Regions from separate parts of the Homo sapiens genome. Here region 1 is linked to region 2. The links come from fine-mapping of genetic effects on gene expression. Tissue or cell type: skeletal muscle. Region 2 holds a variant in brackets; the other region holds the start of a gene. All regions are shown on one strand. Distances are from middle to middle.

What was found. PIP is the estimated chance that this variant, and not a neighbour inherited with it, causes the effect.
Region 1: FOXO6 starts here. The variant in region 2 is fine-mapped to the expression of FOXO6 in skeletal muscle (GTEx, PIP 0.95).

Annotation. Positions count from the first base shown.
Region 1 is chr1:41,360,354-41,363,034 of GRCh38, forward strand. FOXO6 (forkhead box O6) reads left to right here and starts at 1,081. Exons shown (of 3, transcript NM_001291281.3): 1 at 1,081-1,991. The coding sequence starts at 1,578. RefSeq lists enhancers at 487-556, 624-918 and silencers at 717-1,376, 1,577-1,796.
Region 2 is chr1:41,395,283-41,397,963 of GRCh38, forward strand. No RefSeq gene overlaps it. Among named protein-coding and RNA genes, the nearest start is that of FOXO6-AS1, 21 kb to the left of the region's middle. RefSeq lists an enhancer at 1-220. The variant G/A (reference allele first, on the strand shown) is at 1,339.

The DNA.
Region 1 (2,681 bases), 35 kb before region 2:
CACGGACTGCCCAACCTCTCGGCTAGCCTCGCCCTTCTGAGCTCATGTGATGATCTGATTAGCATCTGACTCCTGACTAGTCTATGCAGTAGGGGACCTCATTTGTTTCAGTTGCTGCTCTCACTGTAGAGCCCTGGACAGTGCCTGGTGCGTCAGAGGTGCTCAATAAATATCCAGGAACTGATTGAGAAGCATCTCCCCAAACACTGTGAACTTTAGACAAGTGCTTGTTCCAACAACCGCAGTAAGAACCTCCCACAGACTCTAAAACAATGGTTTGCAAGGTGTGGTCTCTCGTGCATCACCTGGGAGCTGGTTAGAAATGCAAAGTCTGGGGCCCCAACCCAGACCTGCCGAATCAGAAACTCTGGAGTTGGGGTCCAGCAATGTTAACAAGCTCTAGGGGATGATTCTGCTCTGCGTCAAACTTTGAGAACTGGAGCTCTAAAACTATGACCACAGGCACCATGAAGAACATGTTTGCGGATGGAGGAGCGAGAATTGTGGCAAAGCCTAGCCTAGAACCCAGGTATTCTTGACCCATTCTTTTTCCCCAGCTCAGTCCAGGGCACAAAGAAGAGCAGAGTTCGATCATCCTCCCTGTCAGAGTCCTGGAACGGAGACTTGGGAACGTCAGGAGTCTACAAACAGAGGGCGGGGCAGTCCTCTCCGGAGTAGAAGGCGGGGCCAGTGCCCTGAGCCCCGCCCCATCCCGTTGCCCCGGGAAACCCCGGGTTGTAACAATAACCGGTGACGCGCTTCTGGGAGGGATCCTGTCGAGCCCATGGGCAGGACAGTCCAGCCGCGGACCAATGGGAGTGTTAGGGCTCCGCCCCCTAGCCCCCCCGCCTCCGCGCCGAGCAGGGGGCGGGGTCGCGCCAGCCGCTCCGCCCCTGCTCCGTAGGCGGCGCTGTTGCTTGCAGGGGCTGCGGCGGGGTCGCCCCGAGCTGGGAGCTCAGCGCCCGGTCTCCCAGCCCGCGGGCGGGGCACCTGGGCTGGCTGAGGATTCCGCGGCCGCAGGCGAAACGCCCCGCCCCCTCCCGCGTCGGGCCCGCCCCCTCCCCGTCCCCCGCCCATCCCGAGGTGCAGCCGGCGCTGAGCGCGGCAGGCGCGGGAGCTGGCGCTGGAGCCGGAGCGGCGGCGGCGGCAGCATTCACCGGGCGGCGGCGGCGCGGGCTCCGGCACCGGCTCGGGCTCCGGCATGGTGCAATCCGGCCTCGTCCCGGGAGAGCAGGGCCCGTGCGCAGGGCCGGCGCCCGGGGAGCGGCGGCAGCGGCGGTGGCGGTGGTGGCTGCAGGCGCAGGCAGGCGGCAGGTGCTAGAAGCGGGGCTGGGCGAGGTGTGTGCCCGCTGGGCTCCCGGGCCGCCGCCCCCTCACTGCCCAGGTCTTTCCCTCCCTTCGTGCTCCCCAGCGCGTCCAGCCCCCTGCCTCCGCGCCTCGGCCCATGGCGCCCCGCGGCTGAGACAGCGCCGCCAGGGACCCCTCCCGCGGGCCTCCCCGGGGCGTGCAGATCCCGGAGCCGCCCGCCCACCCTCCGCGAAGCCTCCCTCCCCTCCTCGCCCGAGCCGGGCGGGACCATGGCTGCGAAGCTGCGAGCGCATCAGGTGGACGTGGACCCGGACTTCGCGCCGCAGAGCCGGCCGCGCTCGTGTACCTGGCCCCTGCCGCAGCCTGACTTGGCCGGCGACGAGGACGGAGCGCTGGGCGCAGGGGTGGCCGAGGGCGCCGAGGACTGCGGGCCGGAGCGCCGGGCTACGGCCCCGGCGATGGCCCCAGCGCCGCCCCTGGGCGCGGAGGTCGGACCGCTGCGGAAAGCGAAGAGCTCTCGGCGGAACGCGTGGGGGAACCTGTCCTACGCCGACCTCATCACCAAAGCCATCGAGAGCGCCCCGGACAAGCGGCTCACGCTCTCGCAGATCTACGACTGGATGGTCCGTTACGTGCCCTACTTCAAGGATAAAGGCGACAGCAACAGCTCGGCCGGCTGGAAGGTGGGGGCGTCCGGCTGGGGAGGGGGCTGGGGACGCCGACTGGGGCTTCCAGGGGCTGCTAGGTGTGTTGGGCTCCAGGAGGGCCGTCAGAAGGAGGGCTTTTTGGCACCCCCCGGGGTCACAGAGTGTGCGCCCAGGGCGTGGGGCCGGCCAGCGGACGGGCGGGGGCGTACTGGGAGCAGCTGTGTGCGTGCTCCCTTGCGGGGAGGGATGCGGGGTGGGAGGTCTGGTAGGGTGACAAGGGACTGCCGCTTTGAGGCGTCCCCGAGGCACGTCCCCACCCTGTCCTTGGGGGCATAGCAGAGGAACCCATTCCCAGGCCGCGGACATTGGGGAGCCTCCCCCTCCTCCCCCAAGTCTGCTTTGTGTGACTCTTGTTTTACCCTTTCCACCAGGGCACCCTTCTTAGAGCGCTGGAATAATGACTTGGGGCCAATGCCGGCTTTCCCTCCCAAATCTCTATCATTGCGCTTCCTGGAGCTGTCCCCAGGGTGAGGAGTGTGACCATGGGCCCACAGTTCTTCTTGTGGTGCCAGAGTTCACCCTAGGGCACCAACCAGCCTGGAGTGGGGAACTCGGCAGGTGACCTGAGATCTGAGTTCTCCATGGGGTGGCTGCTGCCCCCCTTACCTAGATCAGGATGGGGGTCACTGGTGATGGCCCCTGCTGGTGTGAGGACAGGGTGTTGAG
Region 2 (2,681 bases):
TGAGAGAAAGAGAAAGGGGAGCTTCATCCCAGAGCCTCCTCTGTCTCTTCTTCCCTCTGCCGTCTCTCAGCCCTCCCCGCTCCTCACTCCCAGTCTTGTCAGGGGAGGATGGGGTGCCAGGGGCTCCTGTCAGTCTGGAGCTGGAGAGCTCCCCGGGCTTCATTAACATGCAAATTAGCAAGTTCTGACTGGCTGTGGCAGCGACAGGCAGCCACCCCTCCCAGCCCCAGGAGTGTGTGTGTGTGTGTGTGTGTGTGTGTGTCTCCTCTGCGGCAGGGCTGGATGGAAGTGGGGGAGCAGCTCTCATTGCCCTGGTCTCCACAGACAGCAGTGCATGTGTGTCTAACATACATACACACACTTATACACTCATACCTACAGAAAGACACATAATACACAGCTACATACAGCCACACATCACACAGTCTCAGGGACATTCATGGACACACAGTTACGCGTATAGCGTCACACACACAACTTCACACACAGTGGTCACACCCTAAACTGTCTCAAATAGGCATACCCTTTCCAAACACACTATTTTTCACACCCTCACCACAACCCTGCCGAGGAACAAACCCACAAACACACCACCCCCTACACAGCCACACACATACACACATAATCTCAGTTACACAAAATCACACACAGGCACAGTCCAGGGAGAGAGCGGGGCTGAGGCTCCACACTCAGCCTGGGAGAGCAACTGCCTCCACCTGGACGCCCTCCATGCCCACCTCACCCACCTTCCCTCCACCTGAACTGGCCAAGATCAGCCTGTGTCTCCCCCGGTCAGCTCTCAAGGTTGAATACTGTCTGGCCCCTCTGCCTGGATGCACCCTGAACTCCCTCACCCGGTCCACTTGCACTGTCTTCCAGCCATCACCTCTCCTGGCTGCCTGCCCTCACCCTCTATCCGTGGGGCTGGGCCCCTGCTCCGGCCGCCCAGGCTTCCCTTGAGAGTGGCCCTGGTCACGCTGCATTGAAATTGCCCGTTGATGTGTCTGCCTCCATCAGGATGGGAGCTCCAGGAGGACAGGACCGGCGTCAGTCAGTCTTGTTTATGGCTCTGTCCCAGCGCTCAGCTCACTCTGACCTGTCCGTGCTATTTCCGCAGCAGATGGAGCGAGGGCCAGCAGTGTTAACAACGGGAATGGCTAAGATTTTTACATGGCATTCGCTCTGTGCTGGGCCATATACACAACAGCCCTACGAGAGAGTTTCTACTATTCACCACCCCATTGTCACAGTCAAGGAAACTAAGGCACAGAGGGCTTAAGGTGCCTGAGCAAGATCACCCAGCCAGAACTGCGGTCTGAACTCTGGTTCCCCAGCTCA[G/A]AATAGCCCTGTACATGCTCTTCCCAGGACTCTAGGCAGAGATGTGGGGTGTTGAGGGCGGTCACAGGGGGCCAGAAACATTCCTTGGCGAGGGGAAGAGCAGCAGGAGGAGATTTCAGTTCCCAGGAATAGACGGAGGACACTAGATCTCTGAGAGGAAGGTCTGTGGTCACTCACCACCTGCACGGAGGCCCTGGGCCATGGGATCCTGGGACATCAGGGTTGGGGAGATCGAGCAGGACATCCATTTTAGAGAGGGGTTGACTGACGCCAGAGAGGTCCTAAATCACACTTGCCTTCCATTTCTCGAATATCTGTAAAGTGTGCCAAGCACACTTGTTTATCTACTTTAACCCTTGAGACAGCCCAGTGAGGTTGGCACAATAGTTAGCTCCATTTTACAGGTCAGAAAAGTGAGGCTCCATGTATCTCTATATGCCCAAGGTTGGTGTGGATATCTGTGGTTTTGTCTACAAGGAATCATTTTCAACCCATGTTAACCCTGATTTTAGAATGGGAGCTGCCATCGTTTACAGAGCCTACCCTCCTGGGCAATGTTGATTGGCTCAGTGAAGGACACGTGATTCACACTGGGCCAATCAGAAGCCCTGGCTTGAGTTTTTTTTATTTTATTTTATTTTATTTTATTTTATTTTATTTTATTTTATTTTATTTAGACAGAATCTCACTAGGTTGCCCAGGCTGGAGTGCAGTGGTGCCTTCTCAGCTCACTGCAAGCTCCGCCTCCCGGGTTCAAGTAATTCTCCCACCTCAGCCTCCGGAGTAGCTGTGATTACAGGCATGTGCCACCATGCCTAATTTTTGTAATTTTAGTAGAGACGGGGTTTTTCCATGTTGGCCAGGCTGGTCTCCAACTTCTGTGATCCGCCCGCCTCAGTCTCCCGAAGCATTGGGATTGCAGGCGTGAACCACCGCGCTCGGTCCTGGCTTGAGTTTTGAATTTAGGGTCAAGGTGAGCCTCTGGAGTTTTCAGCAGGCTGGATACTCCTCTGCAGTAGGAAAAGAGAAAGGCAAACATGCTGAGAACAAGGGAGGGAGGTCCAGCTATCCCCTGCCTGTACTGGAGCACCTTAGGGTGCTTCAGCACATGTTTTGTTGACTGGGCAGTCTCCCAACTAGCTCCACCTTCCCACATCTCTCCCCCACCCTTCCTTGTCATCTCTCTGCTTGTCTAGGGCCCCACACTTACACAGGGGGCTCACAACAAGTGTACTAGGGTGCTGAAGAGGGGCAGGAGGGGGCTCTGCCCATTGGATAATCCCGGTGGGCACTGAGCCAGGATTCAGGGCACAGACCACCTCTCTTCTGCTGGATGACTGGCG